7 linked regions of the Homo sapiens genome follow. The protein of the gene in region 5 purifies or fractionates together with the protein of the main gene of each other region. This does not show direct contact. Each region holds a gene or a part of one and is shown on either strand. Other genes may lie near its edges.

Region 1 (3,500 bases), about 22 Mb from region 5:
AATTAATTTGTATACTACCCATGAGTAAAAAATATTCTCTTTAGATCTTATTGTTCAGTAGAAAAAAATTATTCAACTAAAGTCAGAAGACCTAGGTTCTGGTTCCACTCACCATTAACCTCTACCTCATCCGTCCACCCTGGAGCTTATTCTCACAGGAGGTTGAACTGAACATCGTTAAGATCCTTTCTAATTCTAAAATTCTATATAAAATTATAAATATCCAAATAAAATGGTGGCTAGAAAATTTTCAAATGGGCACATCCCTCTCTAATAGTAACAGTTTCAATGAAAATTACATAGGAATCCACAGTACTAAGACACAATTCACAAATTGCTACTCTTTAAAAAGTGCAAGAAAGATCAGTGCTGATTATAGGTCTTAATTATCACCTTCTGAATAATCTGTGTGCCTGGCTCATAGCAAGCATTTAATAAGTGTCTATCAAATAAAGTCAAGCCTTGCATTTTACTTCTTGCATACTTTGTATAAATTCCTATTTAATCCCACGGGTATTAACAGAGTACCTGAGAGACTAGTAGTCTTCTATTAACATATTTATCTCTAGCCTCTTTCTTTTTTGAAAAAAAACAAAACAAAAACCTTACTACCCCTAAGGTTAGCTGTTTCTCCTAGCTTGTGGCCTCATCTGGATCCCCTCCTCCCCTTTTGAGGCTCACTGACACTTTTCTATTGAGTCCGTCAGATTTCCCTGCCCTCAAAACGTAAGACAGAACTAAGGTAATGATGCAGACAAAAGATTTATTACTGTCTCCTCTTCTCCTTTACATCATCTTTAGAAAGGTTAATCCTCTCCATTCATTTTCTCTTAAACATTTTTTTTGGCCAGCTATGGTGGCTCATGCCTATAGTCCCAGCACTTTGGTAGGCCAAGGTGGGGAGGATCCCTTGAGGACAGGAGTTCAAGACAGTTCAAGACTGACCTGGGCTACACAGTGAGACTATGTCTCTACCAAAAAAAAAAATTTCTTTTAAATTAGCAAGGCATTATAGCGCATGCCTATAGTCCCAGATACTGGTGAGGATAAGTGGGAGATCGCTTCAGTCCAGCAGGTTGAGGCTGCAGTGAGCAGTCATCATGCCACTGCACTCTAGCCTGGGCTACAGAGCGAGAACTTGTCTCAAAAAAGAAAAAACTGTGCCAAAAACATAATATAAAATTTATCCTCTTACCTCTAAAAAAATTCTGAATCAGGAAAAAAAGTCTGTTCACCCACCATGGAAAATTAGAAAGCACCGAAAAGTGAGCAAATAAAAACTGCCCGTACTTTCACCCCTATAAGGCAATGTCTAATAAGAGTTGTATGCTCTTTTATTTCCCTGCATGTTCAAGTTGCATTAGGGAACTATACTTACAATACACGGTAAGTTTTTGAGCATTAACTTTTGATTCTAAATATTGTTGTAATCTCCATACAACAAGCCTTTCTTGGTTAATTCAAAGGACAAAAATAAATAAACATGTAAGTGTGACTAGAATTGTAAGAGAAAATAACAAAATACTGCTAAACCCTCAGGCAACTATTCTTCTTAAGCGCACTGTTATCTTAAGTAAATGATACAAAGAAAATACCAATATTAAAGTTTTAATTAATAACTTAAAAGGATCCAACATTCCTGTTCCCACACAAAGTAAATATAAAGAGGAAACTTGCAGAAATCAAGTTTTTTTCTTTTAATTAAAAAACAAAGAGAAATTAACTAATTTAAAAAGAAGCCACTTACCTGGTTTTCCTCTCCAGCCTGTAACAACTTTTGGTTTCTTGAAATTGCCAGCATTTCTATAAGTTCCCTAAAAAAAAAAAACCAACAACAACAAAAACCCTTTCACAGCATACTGAACACTCAGGGCTACTCCCTACAGTCCGCTATTGACTGTGAACTACAGCTCACCAAGACTCGCTTGTGCCGGTTACCAAACTTATTTATAAAAGTTCTACTTAATACTATCATTATATAAATAGCTATCACCTAAATGCCAATGAAAGACTATTGTGAATAGAGAGAGTTCTTTCTATAAAAACCTAAGCCTAATGCTTGGAAAGACTCTACAGAGGCTTGCAAAGGACAGCTATAAAGAAAGGACCAGGGAAAAGTCATAAAAACTAAGGGTCTGCCCTAAGACTGCTTGATAAGAGGATAAGTTCTCATTTTGATTTGATCTAGAAATCAAACTACAAATTGCAGACAATGCATTATGAGCGATTTATGCAAGAAAAACTCATACATCAGGGGTCTACAGGCCAAATCCAGCACTTCTGCAGTTTTTGTAAATAACATTTTCCTAAGACAGTCTGCCCATTAATATACAAATTGTCTATGGCAGTTTTCCCTAAATACAGAGGCAGAGTTGAGTTGTTACAGCAGAGACTATATGGCCCATAAACCCAAAAGTATTTATTATCTGGCCTTTGCAGAAAAAGTTTTCTGACTCCTGTCTTACATAACATGATTAGTGAATGAACATATGTTTATATATTTTAAGGTAAAATAAAACAATTAAGGGATGCATGGACCATTTTTTAATGATTCTCCACTTTATTTGAATTTTTTAAATTAAACATCAACTAAGAGGGATCCTTACACATAATAAAATGATATCCTTTTAGAATGCTCATTTAATAAATATGACAATTTCCCTGTATGAAAATTAGTATCTGATGAGCAAAATAAGATTGGGAAAAATGTATAGCAGGTAATGTTTATATATTAGTTTCAAACTTGTTGATAGATGGGACTTTTGAGAAATTATGCAGAAGGGGCAGCTTCACAACTAGCTACCTGACACTGCTCTGATCAGCCTGAGCATTTGTACTTTCTCACTGGCTACCAGGCTATTTTTACCTTCAAATTTCCACCTTCCTTCCAGCTAGCATCATATCATTTTTCTGGATCATGTCAATTAGACCCAACCCTTCCCACTACTACTTCCCCATACCATTATTTATGAATTAATCAATGAATGAAAAAAGTAGATATAAGAATGCAAAGTCTTCATTTATTCACTAATTCATCAAATATTTATTGAGTGCCTATCATGTGCCAGGCACTTTCTAGATACTTGGGGTATCAAAGTGAACAATGGCACTTAAATTCTAATACAAGAGACAAGAAGAACTAAGAGAAGAAATAAACCTAGAGTGATAAGGGTTGGGAAGGAAATAAAGCAATGTTTTATTAGAGACTACTGGGGGAGTGGGTTGGCTACTTCAATAGGGTGGTCAGAGAAGGTCTTCCTAAGGGCACAGCTTTGACATAAGACACGGATTAAATGAGAGAAGTCAGCCAAGATGTCTGGAAGGAAAGAGCACAGTAGAAGACACAGACAGTTCAGTGCCCCAAAGATGGAGCTGAGGAGGTGTAGCCAGGGCCTGGCACAATGGGGAGAGGAAAGCAAAGTGAGGATGTAGCAGCCAGGTGGCTAGGGGTGAGATTACGTAGGGCCTTATAGTTATGGTAAAGATTAGTGTTTCATTCT
Region 2 (3,500 bases), on a different chromosome or scaffold from region 5:
CATAAAGACAGGAAGCAGAATGGTGGCTGCCAGGGACTGGGGGAAGGCGGGAATGGGACATTACAGAATGTAAGCTTGGGAAGATGAGTGAAGTTTTACAGATGGACAGTGGTGATGATTATACAATAATATGAATGTACTTAACGCTACTGAACTATACACTTAGAAACAAAGAAAATGGTAAATTTTGTTACCTATATTTTACCACAATTAAAACAGAAAAAAAGGCCTCGTGCGGTGGCTGACGCCTGTAATCCTAACACTTTCGGAGACCGAGGCATGCGGATCACAAGGTCAGGGGTTCAAGACCAGCCTGACCAACGTGGTGAAACCCTGTCTCTAATAAAAATACAAAAATTAGCCAGGTGTGGTGGTGCGCGCCTATAATCCCACCCTCTCGGGAGGCTGAGGCAAGAGAATCTCTTGAACCCGGTGGGGGCGCAGTGGTTGCAGTGAGCAGAGATCGTGCCACTGCACTCCAGCCTGGGTGACACAGCGACACTCTGTCTCAAAGAAAAAGAAAACAAAAAAAGGTAAAGAAGATAATACTCAGCTGAGACTGGGCAAAGTGGCTCACGCCTGTAATCCCAACACTTTGGGAGGCCAAGGCAGGCAGATCACCTGAGGTCAGGAGTCCAAGACCACCCTGGCCAACATGGTGAAACCCCATCTCTACTAAAAATCCAAAAATTAGCTGAGCATGGTAATGGGCGCCTGTAATCCCAGTTACTCAGGAGGCTGAGGCAGAACAATCACTTGAATCCGGGAAACGGAGGTTGCAGTGAGCAGAGATCGTGCCACTGCACTCCAGCCTGGACGACAGAGTGAGACACTGTCTCCAGAAAAAAAAAAAAAAACCCTCAGCTGAATTAGGTTCATTTCTGGTGGATCACAGTAAAATCTGTTTTTACTTTCATTATTCCCCAAAAATAGAATTAGTCATTATAAGCATGAATAATCAAGCTCATGACTTATATTTTACATTTGCTTTCCTGGAAATTTGCTCCATAAACACCGTAAAAATCTTTTTAGAGTTAAAATGTCCATCTTCTGGACAGGCATGGTAGCTCACGCCTGTAATCCCAGCAATTTGGGAGGCCGAGGCGGGTGGATCACGAGGTCAGGAGATCTATACTATCCTGGCTAACACGGTGAAACCCCATCTCTACTAAAAATACAAAACATTAGCCAGGCGTGGTGGGACGCGCCTGTAGTCCCAGCTGCTTGGGAGGCTGAGCCAGGAGAATCGCTTGAACCCAGGAGGTGGAGGTTGCAGTGAGCCAAGATTGTGCCACTGCACTCCAGCCTGGGTGACAGAGTGAGACACCGTCTCGGAAAAAAAAAAAAAAAAAAAAAAACTTCGCGAGTTGCTGTGGCTCGCGCCTGTGATCCCAGAACTTTGGGAGGCCAAGGTGGGCAGATCACCTGAGGTCAAGAGATCGAGACCAGCCTGACCAACATGGAAAACCCTGTCTCTACTAAAAATATAAAATTACCCGGGCATGGTGGCACATGCCTGTAATCCCAGCTACTTGGGAGGCTGAGGCAGGAGAATCGCTTGAACCCAGGAGGCAGAGGTTGTGGTGAGCCGAGATTCCACCACTGCACTCCAGCCAGAGCAACAAGAGTGAAACTCCATCTCAAAAAAAAAAAAAAAAAAAAAAAAAGTCCATCTTCTTATCGAGATTAATCAGAAATAAATGTGAAGGGAAAAAAAACTTTTCCCAGGTATCTTTTTTTTTTTTTTTTTTTTTTTTGAGACAAGTCTTGCCCTGTTGCCCAGGCTGGAGTGTAATGGCGTGATTTTGGCTCACTGCAACCTCCGCCTCCCCAGGTCACACTGTTCTCCTGCCTCAGCCTCCCGAGAAGCTGGGATTATAGGTGCCCGCCACCACGTCCAGCTAATTTTTGTATTTTTAGTAGAGACAGGGTTTCACCATGTTGGCCAGGCTGGTCTCAAACTCCTGACCTTGTGATCCGCCCACCTCAGCCTCCCAAAGTGCTGGGATTACAGGAGCGAGCCACCGCACCCAGCCTCCCCAGGTATCTTATATTACCCTTCATCATTTATCTTTTAAATCTCTATCAGCCTCCAAAACAGGATCAAAAATAAATGTTTCAAACTTTAGCAAAAAGATCATTCCAACTCCATAAATGAATGCAAGAGCAATATCTAATACATAAAGTTGACCTACCTCAATTTTTTACTTCTAGTTTAAGTATAAAATGGTCCTTCTTGAACTGGGGGTTTTGTGAAATCAGCATATTTCAAAAGTGTTCACAAACCTTTGAGAGCCTTCTGCAATGTCTCCAAACAGCTGACCAAATGTTGATGCCCTCCAGAACTCATCACAACCCTCTTCTCCTGTGTCAAGTGGGAAAACATTTGAGGTGAAAATTAACCAGGCCAACAGTGTTTTAGGTAAACATACACATTATCCTAGTAGTAATATTGCAGGACAGTCTATAGACTCAATATAGTCTATAGATTTTGTAGACTATATAGAGTAACACTGGTCTACAAGTGTTACTCTGTCCATCCATGCAAAATCCATATATATGAGTGTAGAAAAAGGTATTCCTCAGCCAGGCACGTGGCTCATGCCTGTAATTCTAGCACACTGAGAGGCCAAAGCTGAATAATCACTTGAGTCCAGGAGTTCGAGACCAGCCAAGGCAAGATAGAGAGATCCTGTTTCTATTTAGTCAAAAACAAAAAAGAAAACGTTGTATTTCCACATCTAAAACAAAAAAACCTTTAGAGAAATATTAGGAAGAATCAAAATGTAATACATGAGATCTGCCGCCTGTGGAAGTGACCACATGCTAAGATATAAACAGTTAAATAAGATGGCTCAGGAGATTTGGTAGTGTACAAATTTAACAAGGTGATTTGCATGTAATCTGAGAAACACAACCAAATTTTAAGAAAATGAGATTGACTCTAAAAAACAGAACATATAGGCTGGGTGCGGTGGCTCACACCTGTAATCCCAGCACTTTGGGAGGTCAAGGCGGGTGGATCACGAGGTCAAGAGACTGAGACCATCCTGGCCAAAATGGTGAAACCCCGTCTCTACTAAAAATACAAAAATTATCTGGGCGTGGTGGTGCACGCCTATAGTCCCAGCTACTCAGCAGGCTGAGGCAGGAGAATCACTTGAACCCAGGAGGCGGAGGTTGCAGTGAGCCGAGATCACACCACTGCACTCCAGCCTGGCGACAGAGAGAGACTCTGTCTCAAAAAAAAAAAGAAAAAGAAAAGAAACAGAACATGTAGTCCAGAAAAGGGACTTCCAAAGAACAAAAACTTAGCCTAGTTTGAGGCCGGTTGCAGTGGCTCACGCCTGTAATCCCAGCACTTTGGGAGGCCAAGGCGAGCAGATCATGAGGTCAGGAGTTCGAGACCAGCCTGGCCAACATAGTGAAACCCCATCTCTACTAAAAATACAAAAATTAGCCAGGTGTGGTGGTACGCGCCTGTAGTCCCAGCTACTCAG
Region 3 (4,159 bases), on a different chromosome or scaffold from region 5:
CCAAAAATACAAAACTTAGCCAGGCATGGTGGTGTGCGCCTGTAATCCCAGCTACATGGGAGGCTGAGGCAGGAGAATCACTTGAAACCAGGAGGCGGAGGTTGCAGTGAGCCAAGATCGCACCACTGCCCTCCAGCCTGGACAACAAGAGCGAAACTCCATCTCAAAAAGAAAAAAAAAAAGACGAAACTTGGCCAGGCACGGTGGCTCACGCCTGTAATCCCAGCACTTTGGGAGGCCAAGGCGGGCAGATCACGAGGTCAGGAGATCAAGACCATCCTGGCTAACACGGTGAAACCCCGTCTCTACCAAAAATACAAAAAAATGGCCGGGCGCGGTGGCTCACGCCTGTAATCCCAGCACTTTGGGAGGCCGAGGCGGGTGGATCATGAGGTCAGGAGATCGAGACCATCCTGGCTAACAAGGTGAAACCCCGTCTCTACTAAAAATACAAAAAATTAGCCGGGCGCGGTGGCGGGCGCCTGTAGTCCCAGCTACTCGGGAGGCTGAGGCAGGAGAATGGCGTGAACCCGGGAAGCGGAGCTTGCAGTGAGCCGAGATTGCGCCACTGCAGTCCGCAGTCCGGCCTGGGCGACAGAGCGAGACTCCGTCTCAAAAAAAAAAAAAAAATACAAAAAAATTAGCCAGGCATGGTGGTGGGCGCCTGTAGTCCCAGCTACTCGGGAGGCTGAGGCAGGAGAATGGCATGAACCCGGGAGGCGGAGCTTGCAGTGAGCCGAGATCACGCCACTGCACTCCAGCCTGGGCAACAGAGTGAGACTCTGCCTCAAAAAAAAAAAAAAAAAAAAAAAAGAGGAAACTTAAGTACAGCACAAAGAGGTTAAATAACTTGCACTAGGTCACACAGTTAATGGGTGGTACACTCAAGACTCAAAGCCCAGCAACCTGGCTTGATGTCCATGCTCTTAACCACTAACTAGACTGCCTGTATAAGGATGTAGTGCCTGTTAAAACATTAAGGAAAATCGATTAAAAAATTAATAAACAATAGTACAAGCAGTACTTAGCTATATAGAAATCAAGAAAACAGTCATAGATGACATTGCTTTATGATCAACTAAATGAATCTATTAAGGTAGAGTCCTTCTGTTGCTAAAAATTGTCACTACTCTATCAGAAAAAAACACTGATAAACGATGTTGCTAATGTGCCTTATTTTGAAATACAAAAGAATCCCTAAACTGACGCTACAAGTGACAGAAGTCCTAGGATTCTGAAAACGTTGATAAGGGGGCCAACAGAGAGCCCTTTCCCTGGAGCTGCCTTCTCCATTTAAAGAGCAGGGGTGGCTGGGCACGGTGGCTCATGTCTATAATGCCAATACTTTGGGAGACCAAAGCAGGAGGCTCGCTTGAGTTCAGGAATTCAAGACCTGCATGTACAAAACAGCAAGACCCCATTTCTATTTCTTTAAAAAAAAGAAAGAGCAAGGGTTCCAGGGTTCTACGCTGCATCCTTTCCATTTCCATTCCTCACATATCTTGCTTCCATTAAGGAACACAGGAGGATCGTGTCAATCGTAGGAAGCAAGAGTGCAATCACTGAGAAACCTGCAAGAACCTGGGCTACCAGGAGGAAAAGTATTTCCCCTACACATGCTTTTGTATGAGAAGCCTATATCCACTGGCTTCAAATATCCTGGCCTCCGGATTTCTCCCACGGGAAAAATGCTCACATCTACTGAGATAAGAAAAAAATGTTCTGGGACCTGGCACCTTACAACTAACGCCTCCACGAGCACTGGACCCATACCTTTCCCTGCCACCTCATCTTCTTTCAACTGAGACTTAAAACATATGAAAGATAAAAACTCCATTGAAACTAGACCAACCATGGAATTAAACATAGTGGGAAACGGGTCCTAAAGAGATAAAGTGCCTGGAACCATGATCTCCTTATTATCAATACCCTTTTTTCCTCTAGACCCAAGATCTTAAAATGAGCAAATTAGAAACAGACACAAGCGGGTCTAACTGTATTTGATGGCTGAGGGAAGAGCAGGCGAAAATCTTAAAAAATACTATCTCCTGATTGCTTATGGCCCACTCCCTCCAACCCTGTCTGCAGGTGGGTCATAGTCCAAAGACCCTATTTCCAACCCTGAGGTCCCACTGCAGGCAGTACTATGGCCTCACGGGAAGGAAGATGTATCCAGAAGAGAATGAGGTATACAACCATTGATAGGTTCCTGGGATAAAAAGTTTGCTTTGTCGACACCAGCGTGGCCAATATGGTGAAACCCCATTTCTACTAAAAATACAAAAAGTAACCGGGCGTGGTGGCGGGCGCCTGTAGTCCCAGCTACTCGGGACTACAGGAGAATCGCTTGAACCCAAGAGGCGGAGTGTTGCAGTGAGCCAAGATCGCTCCACTGCACTCCAGTCTGGCGACAGAGCGAGACCCCGTCTTAAAAAAAACAAAACAAAACAAAAAAAAAACCTTTGCTTTCCCGCCTTCCAAGAGGAAGGGGCGCATCTCTGAGGAAACAAGCCCGGGGAACCCGCAGCCCGGACGGCATCCTCTCATCTACACAACCCGAGGACATCTCCCTCAGCTCCCAGAGGACGGCGGACCATGGTCAAGGTCCTCTTTCCGGCCTTTCACAACTCCAAGCCCCGCCCCACAAAACCCCCTGCAGTCCTACCAAGTCACTCCCATGGCGTCGGGCCAGGAAGGTGGCAGAATCACACAGTAGAAACGCAGGGTTCCCTGTCCGCCCACAGAAACTCCTTCAGTTCCCCAACACAACCTTCTGTCTCAGAAGGGACTCCGGAAATACGTAAAAACAGAGCGCCGGGTCCACGCCTTCCCCAAGGAATGGGGCGTGTCTCGGCACCCCTCGGTGACGCCTCCACTGACATCATCTGCGGATTCCCGCCCCGAGGTTTCTAAATCCAGACATTCCCGTTTGGCTGAGCACTCTAGGCCTACATCCATGAAGCTAGGAGAGCGACACTCAAAGACTGCACTATTGAGAGAAGCTAACGTTAAAGGCAGTGAATATATTCGGGAGTCCAGCTCCGGAACCCGGGAGCTCTTTTAGTGGGAGGGGCGGCGCTGATGGCGCTTCTGGCCTCCGAATGCTAGGGGGCGCTGTGATCGCCGGGCGGCCTCTTGGGCGCTGGGAGTCCACCGCGCAAGCGCATCCTGGCCTTTCTTCAGTCCCCACGTGCGATCCTTCCCGGCAACTTTTTCGAGAAAAATGCCCAAATTCAAGGCGGCCCGTGGGGTGGGGGGTCAGGAAAAACATGCGCCCCTGGCCGATCAGATCCTGGCTGGGAATGCGGTGCGGGCGGGGGTCCGGGAGAAGCGGCGGGGTCGCGGGACAGGAGAAGCGGAGGAAGAGTATGTGGGGCCCCGGCTGAGCCGACGGATTTTGCAGCAAGCACGGCAGCAACAGGAGGAACTCGAGGCCGAGCATGGGACTGGGGACAAGCCCGCGGCGCCGCGGGAACGCACCACGCGGCTGGGTGAGTGTCTGGGATGAGGTCCGAGGAAGACAGTGGCCAGTAGTGGGGCGGGGTGGGCAGCTAAAAAGTGTCTGGCAGGGGAATTGCTTCGAGTCAACAAAGGGGTCCGTATTACACTTGCAAAGGAGACTGAACCCTGTCTAGAGCCCTCCGCGTCCACTCCTAGTTTTAGGCACTCCCTTCTAGACACCCCCGAAGTTAGGCCAACAGTAATCGATCGCGCCACTAAGTGCTCCTAGCATGTATCCATTGGTTTTGTAAATATTTATGGGATACCCACTACGAGCTTTGCGCTATGCTCGGAATTCTATCGAATGTTTGGGTACAGAAGTAAACAACACAGGCACGTCTAACTTAAGGACCTTACAGTCAAGCCCAGCAGAGAGGCAATTAAGTAGACTCTTAGAATAATATATTTCCATGATAAAGTATCGTTTCCCTGGTAACAATAGCATTGGTCTTGAGAAGCTTCTCCGATTGCAGCAGGACCTTTAAGCTGAGAACTGAAAAACGAATGGGAAGTGTTATGAGCAGAAAACACATTGTTTAGCAGCCAAAGAGCGAGAGAGATGAATTGAAAGACGTCTGATGTTTTCTCACTAGGGAGGGAGTGTTGACCTCTGAGGTGCTTCATCCGTTTCTCAGATCTCATCTAAAGCAATATTTGA
Region 4 (2,808 bases), on a different chromosome or scaffold from region 5:
CATGTCTCCTCGATAAACAACATCCTCCAGACATGTAGCAGCTTCATGGTTTTCTTCTTCTAGCTTATACAAGCTAGCAGCCTTTATAAGACACAAATTTTAAAATCTTTAGAGTTTAGAAAGAGAAGCTGTCACAGATGTACTTATTTTTAAATCTGGATGACTTTGCAATCATTGTGATATGTTTTTCAGTAAAGAAATTCTAAAAATCAGACAACTTTTAAGAATTTTCCCCATGTGAATTATTAAAAAGAATGACTTTTCAATTAGAGATCTCTAGATATCTTTAAGTGACTCCCTTACACATTACGTTTAGACACCATTATTCTACTCCAATTGTAGAATGCCACCCTCCTCTCATTCTTCACTAGGAAAAGAGACAAAATTGAGGAAAATAAGAGGTTTCCTTATAATGGAAATTTGAATATTATAACAAAAGGTGCTATGATTTGAATGCATCCCCTCCAAAATTCATACATTAAAATCTAATCCCCAATGTGATGGTATTAAGAGGGAAGGGGCCTTTAAGAGGATATTAAGTCATGAAGGCAGAGATCTCATAGATGGAATTAGTACCCTTAAAATATGGCTTGAGGTTGAAGAGGGAGCTCTTGCTCTTTTGCCCTTCTGCCTTCAGCCATGTGAGGAAACAGGAAGAAGGCCCTCAACATGGCCCTAAACATGGCACCATGTTTAATAAAAATTCATTACTCATGCACAGTGAGTAATAAATGCCTTGATCTTGGACTTCCCAGACTCCAGAACTGTGAGAAAATAAATTTCTGTTCTTTATAAATTACTGTCTCAGGTATGTTGTTATAGCAGCACAAATGGACACAGACAAAAGGTACTAAATCTACCTCCTTTAATTCAAAATTCTCTATTACTGGTAAAATTCTCAAAGGAATAGAGGCTTACCTGTAAAGCAGCTGTAGATTCTTCACTGGGTAAGGAATCTATCAAAACATCAATGTCTTTTGCTGTTCGTGCAATCAGTGCTGCAAAAAGCTGGGCATACTCTAGAGAAAGATACTGCTAGATTAGGATATTAGAAAACCTCAAGTTTTCAGAAACAAATTTTAAGTTAATGAAACCAGAAACTTCATATAGCTTTTTCTGCCCTAAGATTCTAATGATTCGGCCAGGCGTGGTGGCTCACGCCTGTAATCCCAGCACTTTGGGAGGCCAAGGCAGGCGGATCACGAGGTCAGGAGTTTGAGACCAGCCTGACCAACATGGTGAAACCCCATCTCTACTAAAAATACAAAAATTAGCCAGACGTGGTGGCATGAGCCTGTAATCCCAGCTACTCAGGAGGCTGAGGCAGGAGAATTCCTTGAACCCGGGAGGCGAAAGTTGCAGTGAGCCAAGATTGCATCACTGCACTCCAGCCTAGGTGACAGAGCGAGACTCCGTCTCAAAAAAAAAAAGAAGATTCTAATGATTAAAATATACACCAATCCTGTTACACATTTAGCTCAAATTGGGAATTAAGCATAATGTATGTAATTTCATTTATTATGACAATATAGTGGTCACCTGAATAAAGAAATTTATAAATGGGATGCCTTCCTTGTTAAGGTCCCTCACTCAGCTAAATTAATACAAATTCTCCTCTAAAGGAGTAACAATCTATTATCTGACATGAACCAGAATTATGAGATGTTAGGTGAATTGACTGTAAATTTTTTACAACAAACAAAACTTGTAATATTCTCAAACAACAATAATTTTAGAAATAAAATAAGCTGAATTTCTCAAGAAATCTAATTTTAAAGGATTACAAAAAATGTGAGAGTCAAACTAAGAGAAGCTAAGAAAACCTGTTTACCTTCTGTAGGGTTAGCTGGCTGGTCTTTGTTAATTGCTGTCTGAATATTATTGAAAGAGGCAGGAGGACCACATTGCTGCAATACTCCAATGGCATTACAAAACTGATCTGCAAGCTTAGGCCAAAGAAAACATATCAAGGTTAGAAAGGACTTATCAGTTTTAAGGACTTTATTGGTAATGGCAACAACAATAAGTTTCTGTAATGATAATCTCTGAGCAAGGGAATAAAACAGAAAGGAGTGATTGTTGATAAAATAAGCCAGTTATTATTAATGTTGATTAAACGTTTTAATTCTGCAAAGAAACTAAGTTTGGTATCAATCTAGGTAAAGTTAAATTTGATATAAATCTAGTTGAAACAGTTGAAATACAAAATAATCTTTCTTTTCTTGTGATAGTAAAATGATAAGAGAATATTGGCCAATACTTATTGTAAGCCACAAGTAAAGACTTTTTGGGGATAGTGATGGAAAAGAGCAAATTTGACTTGTAAATATCTATGGCACCATGTTTAATAAAAATTTATTTCTCATGCACAAAGTATATGATTCCTTTTCTGAGACTGGAGTAGTTACAAGTGTAAAGAAATAGTGAGGAAGAGGCTGCTCAGAAAAGCACCTTAAGTAAGCAGAAATGTATTTGTTCAAGACTCAATTTGTAAACTCTTGTACTCTAAAAGTATTCCTTAAGTACTTTTAAAGATTGGGAATAGCAATTCCTTACCATCTCCAAATTAAATACACCTATCTTCCCTACCAATTTCTCTCACCTAGTCTTGACCTCTCAAACCTCCTATTTCTAATAAGTATTTCCACTGGGTTTCTCTGCCATTGTTTCAATGACAGAACTCAAAGGCAACTGTTTCCTCTTTTTAATATTTAATTTGTATTGAAAGTCTCCTAGTCAACCAATCTAACTTCAGATTCTTACTTTCCTTTGATCTTCATATTCTGCTAATACTACAAATCTTTCTCT
Region 5 (3,500 bases):
ATTATACTTCAGCAAATTTTATTGTGGGTAATATTGTACAGTGCATATAACTAGTTCATTAGCTTTATCATCATCTTAATAATATTTAAGCCAAATAAATATTTTTAATGTTCATTTTCATAAAAAACAAATGATAATTTAGCCTACTAAAACCCACTCCTTTATCTATTTTAATTGGAATGTTGAAGTGAATTGGTAGGGGTTAGGCAGCAGAGGGTAACAAGGCAGTCGCAATAAAAATAGTTATTTTTAAAAATCACTTAGGCGTTGGTGAGATTTCATGGTATGTATATTTTGCATTTGTTATGTAGCCCTGGAATATAAAGAAAATGACAGTAGGATTTGTCATTTTAAAACATTGGTAAAAAAAGTCACTTGTAATACTCTAATGAAAGTGTACATGAAGAAATATATATGAAATTGATTAATTACCTTACCTCTCCTACATATTTGTTCCTTTGATTCTTACTGCGGCAGAGTTTTAATTTTTTTTTTTTCAAAAAATTAACCTATTTTATTTTTATTTATATTTATTTTACCTGTTTTTATTAAGCTTGGAGAGAGCCAAAGAATCTTCTTCTTGTTTTTTTTGTTTGTTTGTTTTTGAGATGGAGTCTCGCTCTGTCGCCCAGGCTGGAGAGCGGTGGCAGGATCTCCACTCACTGCAAGCTCCGCCTTCCAGGTTCACGCCATTCTCCTACCTCAGCCTCCCGAGTAGCTGGGACTACAGGTGCCTGCCACCACTCCCGGCTAATTTTTTGTATTTTTTAGTAGAGACGGGGTTTCACCGTGTTAGCCAGGATGGTCTTGATCTCCTGACCTCGTGATCCACCCGCCTCAGCCTCCCAAAGTTCTGGGATTACAGGCGTGAGCCACCATGCCCGGCCCAAGAATCTTCTTCTTAAGGAGAACAGACTTGATTGTCACATCATATTTTAGGACAGGTGACAAAACAGCCTAGATTATTAAATTGTTGTAGCTCTGTTTTGTTTGCCTGCTATTAAATACTTTGAAAAAAAGACTGAGAAGAAAATTAAAGTAGATTAATGCTGCTAATTTAGATTAGTCATACTACATATGTGCAAACTGCTACACTTTACCTTCTCGTAGATATTTGCTATATATTTTTACCTTGGAGAGTAAAGCTCCTTTATTCATTAATCATTAGTTATTCCTTACTTGTGTCATATTCTGTATATCATAAGAAAATAGCAAGTGAAAATGTTAACTTATAATGTTAAATATCTCTTATTTTTATTATGTCTACTAATTTCAAGAACATGCTTAATATTTACTTACATGTATTGGCCAAGGGTCTGCTCTGTGCAATATTAGGTTCAGGGATATGTACAGTGGTGTGCAAGGCATAGTTTACTGCAGCCGAGTTATAGATTTTCCTGCAATTTAAGAGTGATCTAATTAAGAAAATGAGTCCTATCAAGAGCATTTGAAACTTTTCAAGAAAAAACTTGTAAGGCACATTTATTCATAAAGTAATTTTTCTATGTATAAAGTTGTGCTTTGTTTTACTGGATGTCTAACAACATTATACATAGAAAGCTTTGATGGATGGTACAAGGCAGTTTTTATTTTCCTCAGAATCTTTCCCATTTTTACATTTTTCCATTGTGAACTGGTATATCATTTCTTTGTGCTTGTGTGTATTTTATTGAAGCATCTCCCCACTTGCTTTCTTTATAACCTGTGTCATAAATAGGTTCTAATTCTATGCTATGTCAACCAGCCAGAAGTATCTCTTGAATTTTGTTCTTTTTTTTTTTTCATTTTATCTACCAGATAAACAGGAATCAAGTATACTCTGAAAGTAATTGATTTTTAATTATGCTTTAAAAATAAAAGCACAATATTTTCTGATTCCCTATTGTGATAATTTATCTCCTGAAATGCTGTCATATGGGTAGGAAATGGAATTTTAGCCCCAGTTATTAGGGAATTTTAAAGTTGTTTATGTTATTCAGCAGAGTACGAAATTATATTTTCAATATCTATGGGAATCCCTGAGTGTTTCTTTTTCTGTTAGGAAAATATTATACATCAAATTATCTTTTCCTTTTTTTAAGCTTCTGTTGATATTTTTTTCTTTCTTTCAGCATATAATCAAGTTTCACAGAGCTTCTAAAGCAAACAAGAAGCCAGTTCAGTTACCTCGGGGAATGGTGAAGTCACTATTATATCAGATCCTAGATGGTATTCACTACCTGCATGCTAACTGGGTGTTGCACAGAGATTTGGTAAGTTGACCTGTAATTGGTTTAAACTAGAAAGATGCATTACAGTTGGATACTTTTCTAGTCGTCTGTAGATACCAGTGCTATATGTAGGCCTGCAAACCTTATAGAAGTAGTGAGAATGCTACCTTCTCAAAACATGGCCTAGTAGTGTTTTTATATAATGCCTCCTGCTTCTCTGACATACACTAGATGGTATTTATTTCAAAGTGAAAGAAGAGACATTTGTGTTCCTAAGCTTCTGTTTCCTTTTAAGTTCATAAATAAAGCATTGGCTTGCTTTAAATTGATTATTAGATACAAGGCCAACTGTAGAAATTTATATATTTATAATAACTTGAAAATAAAATTTTGGGAGCCTACTGCATACTAATTTACATATTAGAAAAGGAAAATGTTAATTCAATATGCTTATATTTTAAGCCCCTCTATATTAGCAGTCTGTTGGCCAATCACCTTTATTAATCATAATTGAAGTATATTATTAGAAGCCTTGCTGTGTTCAGGTGCATTGAACTTTTGAGAATTTAAAAACTTAAGAAACTGACTTTTTAATTTTACGTTGCAAAGTCATTTATGCCTTTTTTCACCCATCTTGCACAGGGGTCCCCAACCCCCAGGCCACAGACCAGTCCATGGCTCATTAGGGACCAGGCCACACAGCAGGAGGTGAGCGGTGGGTGAGCATTACCACCTGAGCTCCGCCTCCTGTCAGATCAGTGGCAGCATTAGATTCTCATAGGAGCCAGAACCCTATTGTGAACTGCACATGCGGGGGATCTAGATTGCACGCTCCTTATGAGAATCTAGCTAATGCCTTATGATCTGAGGTGGTACAGTTTCATACTGAAACCATCCCCTCCCACCCCGCTCCGTGGAAAAACTTCTTCCATGAAACTGGTCCCTGATGCCAAAAAGGTTGGGGACTGCTGGTCTAGCATATTATTATTCATTAAATTTTCATGGATTTAAATTACCTAAACTTCAAATTGCCCTTTCTTACTACATAATTACATTGCTTTTATAGTTCTTTTCTTTGTAAAGATAGTAACTATATAATAAGGTTTATAAAGGCACCTTCATTTCAAACAAATATAAACACAATGCTAAAAGTGATTATTTTGTCTCTAATCACCTGTATACAAAGGAAATATCCTGTAGGCTATGAGGCGGAGCCCATCTGGTCTCTCGCAAAGATGTTCTTCACAAATTTAGTGGATTTAGTCTCTGGCCTTCAATGTGCTGTTCCAG
Region 6 (3,500 bases), on a different chromosome or scaffold from region 5:
GGCTTAGAGACCCAGTAAAGGGGACGGGGCCCACACAGGGACGAGGGTCGGTCCGCCACGTGCCCGGGGAGCCTGAGGTGCAGGGAAGGTGCTTGTGACGCTCCCATTTGAGGCTGGACAGAAGCAGGTACATGGGGACTTCCACACCACCTCTGCCCAGACACCCGGCCTGGAGGTGCCGGGACCTCTGAACGACAAGATTCTGGTGGCAAAAGCTGCCCTCGGTGGTGGGTGGGGGACCTGGGTCTGGGTGGGGGTGGGCCGGCTTATTCTGCTCTCATTAAATATCTGAAATTTTCCCAGTTTACAAGCCTCTGACGTAACCGTCCTCTCTTTCCATCAAGTCTTTTCCTGAAACCCAAACCCTCGTGTGTGACTCATTAGGAGGCCCCTCCCACAGTGAGCACGAGGAAGAAAATGCTGGAGGTCCTAGAGCCAAGCCAGGGCGCCTTCCCGGAGGTCCCGGAGCCAAGCCGGGGGTGCCTTCCCTGGAGGTCCTGGAGCCGAGCCGGGGCCTTCCCCGGAGCAGGGCTGCTGGAGGTTCACTTCATTTTCTTCCTTTTGCTCATCTGTGTTTTCTAAAATTCCAGCCCTGAGCAATCAGTGGCTCAGAGGGTTTGCATGTGCTCCTTGTCAAACGTGTGTCTGAAACAGGCTGGGGGTCTGACGGGCCTGGGTTCAAATCCTGACTCGGCCACTTCCTGACCGCGTGACCCCAGATGAGTGGGGTGACAAGGTCCCACCCTTTCCAGGCTGGGTTTCCTCACCGTGAAATGGGGTGACAAGGTCCCACCTCACAGGGCTGCTGGGCAGCCAGGGTCAGCTCAGCACACTTGGGTTGCCCAAACCCCGCACATTCCAGAGAAAGGCCAGCCCCGGGCCCTGCAAGGTGACCTCTTGCCCCCGGGAGATCCTCCTGATGAGGTGTCTGCTCAGCAGGGCCCTGGGCCATATGCTAAGGCGTCTCTCTCCATCCACAGAGGGATCTACGGCGAGGCCTGACATCCAGGGGGGCCAGAGACTAAGGGCAGAGGCTAAGGCAGGGCGCCCTGTACAGCGAGGCCAACACACAATCAGGAAACACCAAGGCAAGGCCGGGGCGGTGGCTCACACCTGTAATCCCAGCACTTTGGGAGGGCGAGGCAGGTGGATCACCTGAGGTCAGGAGTTCAAGACCAGCCTGGCCAACATTGCAAAACCGCCTCTATACCAAAAATACAAAAAATACCTAGGTGTGGTGGCTCATGCCTGTAATCCCAGCTACTGGGAAGGCTGAGGTAGGAGAATCATTTGAACCCGAGAGGCAGACGTTGCAGTGGGCCAAGACGGCACTACTGCACTCCAGCCTGGGCAACAGAGTGAGACCCTGTCGGGGAGACAAAAAAAAAAAAAAAAAGGGAGAGGGTGAATGGAAGGGCTGGGTGCCCGTGTTGGGGGTGGTTCGTGACACAGCAGAAGACACCACTAGGGGATGGAGTTAGGGGCACCTAGAAGGAAGCAGCAGTCATGGCCATGACTGGAGAACATGGAGGGAAGGAGCCGTATGGATTCGGGGGGGTCCTGGGGCAGGACATGGAGGGAGGGAGCCGTGTGGATTCGGGGGGACCCGGGGCAGGACATGGAGGGAGGGAGCCGTGTGGATTCGGGGGGTCCCGGGGCAGGACATGGAGGGAGGGAGCCGTGTGGATTCGGGGGGTCCCGGGCAGGACATGGAGGCGGGGAGCCGTGTGGATTCGGGGGGACCTGGGGCAGGACATGCAGGGAGGGAGCCGTGTGGATTCGGGGGTCCCGGGGCAGGACACGGAGGAAGGAGTCCTGTGTTTGGGGACCAATGCAGGGACACACGCACCTGGCGAGGCCGTCGAGCTGCAGGGTGGCAGCACTGCCAGGCAGCGTGGGCGCCCGGCCAAACTGCAGACGAAGGGGCTGCTTGGGCTGCAGGCGGCTAACCAGGCCGTCGCTGGCTGGCAGCCAGTCCAGGCTGGGGATAAGCAGCTGGCTGGGCAGCAGGCAGCATTCATCCACCAGCGCCTCGTCCGGCTCGCTCGCTGGGCCCTCATCGCGACCTGCGGAGAGAGGTGGCGGAAGTCTCAGCACCCCTGACTGGGGCACCGCCCGGCCACCCGGGACGTGCTGGGAGCCCCTCCAGTTCAGGAGCACCAGGTCAGGGCCCCAGCTCTGTCTGCCTGGCTGGGTGACCCCGGGGTTCTCTCACCAGGTCGGGGCCCCGGCTCTGCCTGCCTGGCTGGGTGACCCCAGAGTTCTCTCCCCGTCTCTGGCCTGTCATGAGACTCCCTCATTCACTTAAAAAGTATGTGGGAAGCACTGTGCCTTTTCCAGACACTGGGATGTAAGAATGACACAGCTCACCCTCCTCACATACACACAACCCGACAAGGAGAGACAGCAAACAGGTGCCTGGAAGTGGCTGCCATCCCAAAAGCACCCACACAGAGCATGGACCTGTGCTAGGAACTGGGGAAATAGCAGATATCAAGGCAGAGCCACTGCCACCTGCAGGGGCTTATGTTCTGGCGGGGGGCTCAGGCAGGACTTGTGTTTTGGTAGGGAGAGGGGAGCGGGGAGAGGGGAGAGGGGAGAGCGGGGAGAAGGGAGAGCGGGGAGAGGGGAGAGCGGGGAGAGGGGAGAGCGGGGAGAGGGGAGAGCGGGGAGCGGGGAGCGGGGAGAGGGGAGAGCGGGGAGCGGGGAGAGGGGAGGGGCGGGCGGGGGTGCCTCACAGCAGATCCAGAGCTTGGTGAGCAGGCGGAAGAGCAGGGACATGCTGTCCTGGGTATCCGAGGTGGCCGTATACACGGGCAGGCAGCTGGGCTTCAGAAGGCCCCAGATGCGGATGACCACCATCAATTCCCGAAGCATGCCCAGCGAGGTGCCGTCCCGCAGAAAGCTGTGGCCCGGCCTCAGCAGGGAACCCTGCCCGAAAGAGGCATCGGTGTGGCTGGGGCGGCGGGGGGCAGATGGCGATGGGATGAAGTGTCTTGGGGTCGGTGGAACCCCGACCGGGGGGCAATGGGCAGGGTCTGGGACATTTGTGGTGGTCAGGACTGGGGTGCTTCTGGCACCGAGTGGGTGGATGCCGGGGACGCTGCTCAGAGCCCTGCAGGGCCCAGGACAGCCCCATTTGCAGAGTCGTCCCATCCCTGAGAGTCCACAAGACTAAGACGAGGCTCTGGCTGAGGCCAATATCCCCACCTGCACGTGGAGGAGCAGCCGCCCCCTCCTACAGCTGCGGGCCCGGGCCCCTGGTGACTGTACTGGGAGCTGAGAGGACCAGGGAAGGGAGGCCCCAGGGGTGGCCCCTGGCAGCCTAAAGCCCCACAAAAAGAAGAGAGGGACTTCAAACCGTCCGTGATGGGCGCGGTGGAGAAGGGCGGGCCCCAGGGCAGGATGAAGCCGGGTGGGTGGGGCAGAAGAAATCACAGCTGGGGCAGGACAGAGTGTACCGGCGGGGGGGTGGGGGCGAGGTTGGAGCCCTGGTCAGG
Region 7 (2,213 bases), on a different chromosome or scaffold from region 5:
TGTATAACGTTGTGAGAAAGTTATTTTCCTTTTCAATTTTTTTGGAATTTTCTTATTTAGCACTACAAAGTCTTTAGGCCTCTTCTAATGCTCATCTCCAGCAGGCCTGGGGCTTAGAGCCTTTAATCAGCGACAGTGTCTATCTAGAATGTAATAATACTGTTTTAGTTATGTATTTATTTATTTTTGTAGAGTTGGGGTCTTACTATGTTGCCCAGGGTGGTCTTGAACTCCTGGCCTTGGTCTCCCAAAGTGTTGGGATTACAGGCACAAGCCACCATGCCCAGCCAATAACACTATTTTGTTGTTATATATTTTAACAATTGCCTTCTATTTCCAACAAATCAAAGTCTTCCATTTATAGAAGAAATATAAAGTCTCCCCCGCTTTTTTTGAGACGGAGTCTAGCTCTGTCTTCAGGCTGGAGTGCAGTGGTGCGATCTCAGCTCACTGCAACCTCCACCTCCTGGGTTCAAGCGATTCTCCTGCCTCAGCCTCCTGAGTAACTGGGACTACAGGCGTGTGCCACCACGCCCAGCTAATTGTTGTATTTTTAGTAGAGACAGGGTTTCACCATGTTGGCCAGGATGGTCTCGATCTCTTGACCTCGTGATCCGCCTGCCTCAGCCTCCCAAAGTGCTGAGATTACAGGCATGGAGCCACTGCACCTGGCTAAAGTTTCCTTTTTATCAGGAAAAGTTTTCCTCTTCTGTATGTAAGTAGAAGAGAGTGAATTGCTTCATAGAATCTTCATCCTCTTGGCAACATCTGACATAATTGTTACAGTAGATTATACCCACTATGAAATCTATTCTTCCCTTGGCCTCTGAGACACAACTTTCTTGTCTTCACTTAACTTGCTGACCATTCCGTTTAAGTCTTCTTTGCTTGGTCTCTCTCATCTTCCCCAAACACTGGAGGACTAGGACTCAATCCTGGTCCTCTTCTGTATCAATACTCTTTTCCTGCCTAGGTGACTTTATTTGGTCCCATGGCTTTAAATATCATTTAGGCCCTGAGGACTCCCACGTTTTTATCTCTGAACTACAGATGAAAACATCCAACTTCCTACTCAGTTTCCTCACTTGGATGCCTAACAGACATCTTTATCTTAACATGTTCAATATCAAACTGTTGATTTTTTCCTCCAAAATCTTATTCACCCTACAGTCTTCAACATCACAGTAAATGGCAACTCTCTGTTTTTAGTTGGTTACCCAGGCCAAAAACCAGAAAATCATCTTTGACTCACACCCTCTTTCTTTCTCTCATACCCTCCATTGAATCCGTATTTTTGAAATAAATGCAGAATGCAATCACTTCTCACTCATCTGGTCACTTCAACCTAGTCCCTTCAAATGAAGTCACCCTCATTTCTTGCCTGGTCTTTGCAATCGCCTCTTTCTACCTTTGCCTTCTTCCTCTCTTCTCCATATGAAAGCCAAATGGTCTATTAAATTATTGGGCAGATAATAACACTCCTCTACTCAGGACACTACAGTGGCTTCCTGTGTCATTCAGAATAAAAGCCAACATCTTTACCGTTGTCAACAAGGCCCTACATATTATGGTCTCTGCTACCTGCCAAACATCATCTCCTTCTATTCCTCCCCTTGATCATTCTCTCCAGGAGTGACCTTCCTGCCACACCCCTTCTCCTATTCTCTGTGCTTAGGATGTTCTTCCCATCTGCATGTCTACTCTATCACTTTTGTCAGGTCTCTGCTCAAGTGACTTTATCATCAAGGCCTTTTCTGATCACCCTAATAAAATAGTATGTGTCCTACCAATCTCTAGCCACTTTCCTGCTTTATTTTTATGGCATAGTTTTGTTTTTTTTTTTTAGGTAGGGTCTCACTCTGTCTCCAGGCTATAGAGCAGTGGCGTGATTATAACTCTTTGCAGCCTCCATCCCCTGGGCTCAAGTGATCCTCCCGCCTCAGCCTCCCAAGTGGTTCAGACTACAGGTGCGCACCACCATGCCCAGCTAATTTTTTTTTTTAGTAGAGATGAGTTCTTGCTATGTTGTCCAGACTAATCCTGAATTCCCGAACTCAAGCAGTACTGCAGCCTTAGCCTCCCAAACAACTGGAATTACAGGCATAAGCCTGTAACAGCTGGCTTGACATACATTTTTTTAGTCATCTTTCTGCCTCCATGGCTATGGCTCAAATGTTAGGAACATATTCAGATACTTGTTTACAAAATCTGGC

What was found.
Region 1: the proteins of CDK8 (region 5) and MED4 purify together in Homo sapiens (affinity purification with mass spectrometry; 11 studies listed by BioGRID and IntAct, with this or other methods). This does not show direct contact.
Region 2: the proteins of CDK8 (region 5) and MED1 purify together in Homo sapiens (affinity purification with mass spectrometry; 16 studies listed by BioGRID and IntAct, with this or other methods). This does not show direct contact.
Region 3: the proteins of CDK8 (region 5) and MED20 purify together in Homo sapiens (affinity purification with mass spectrometry; 10 studies listed by BioGRID and IntAct, with this or other methods). This does not show direct contact.
Region 4: the proteins of CDK8 (region 5) and MED21 purify together in Homo sapiens (affinity purification with mass spectrometry; 15 studies listed by BioGRID and IntAct, with this or other methods). This does not show direct contact.
Region 6: the proteins of CDK8 (region 5) and MED16 purify together in Homo sapiens (affinity purification with mass spectrometry; 12 studies listed by BioGRID and IntAct, with this or other methods). This does not show direct contact.
Region 7: the proteins of CDK8 (region 5) and MED18 purify together in Homo sapiens (affinity purification with mass spectrometry; 6 studies listed by BioGRID and IntAct, with this or other methods). This does not show direct contact.

What each region holds. Positions count from the first base shown.
Region 1 is NC_000013.11:48,088,605-48,092,104, forward strand, and holds part of MED4 (mediator of RNA polymerase II transcription subunit 4), read right to left. Parts: intron 1,815-3,500; coding exon 1,748-1,814; intron 1-1,747. UniProt on the Homo sapiens protein: Component of the Mediator complex, a coactivator involved in the regulated transcription of nearly all RNA polymerase II-dependent genes.
Region 2 is NC_000017.11:39,441,264-39,444,763, forward strand, and holds part of MED1 (mediator of RNA polymerase II transcription subunit 1), read right to left. Parts: intron 2,366-3,500; coding exon 2,287-2,365; intron 1-2,286. UniProt on the Homo sapiens protein: Component of the Mediator complex, a coactivator involved in the regulated transcription of nearly all RNA polymerase II-dependent genes.
Region 3 is NC_000006.12:41,918,340-41,922,498, forward strand, and holds the start of MED20 (mediator of RNA polymerase II transcription subunit 20), read right to left. Parts: upstream 2,801-4,159; 5' UTR 2,680-2,800; coding exon 2,666-2,679; intron 2,605-2,665; exon of another isoform or gene 2,461-2,604; intron 1-2,460. Other genes in the region: BYSL (bystin), read left to right, coding at 3,224-3,491. UniProt on the Homo sapiens protein: Component of the Mediator complex, a coactivator involved in the regulated transcription of nearly all RNA polymerase II-dependent genes.
Region 4 is NC_000012.12:27,025,558-27,028,365, reverse strand, and holds part of MED21 (mediator of RNA polymerase II transcription subunit 21), read right to left. Parts: intron 1,947-2,808; coding exon 1,832-1,946; intron 1,020-1,831; coding exon 919-1,019; intron 82-918; coding exon 1-81. UniProt on the Homo sapiens protein: Component of the Mediator complex, a coactivator involved in the regulated transcription of nearly all RNA polymerase II-dependent genes.
Region 5 is NC_000013.11:26,351,629-26,355,128, forward strand, and holds part of CDK8 (cyclin-dependent kinase 8), read left to right. Parts: intron 1-2,111; coding exon 2,112-2,252; intron 2,253-3,500.
Region 6 is NC_000019.10:869,188-872,687, forward strand, and holds part of MED16 (mediator of RNA polymerase II transcription subunit 16), read right to left. Parts: intron 2,932-3,500; coding exon 2,739-2,931; intron 2,067-2,738; coding exon 1,850-2,066; intron 1-1,849. UniProt on the Homo sapiens protein: Component of the Mediator complex, a coactivator involved in the regulated transcription of nearly all RNA polymerase II-dependent genes.
Region 7 is NC_000001.11:28,332,040-28,334,252, reverse strand, and holds part of MED18 (mediator of RNA polymerase II transcription subunit 18), read right to left. Parts: intron 1-2,213. UniProt on the Homo sapiens protein: Component of the Mediator complex, a coactivator involved in the regulated transcription of nearly all RNA polymerase II-dependent genes.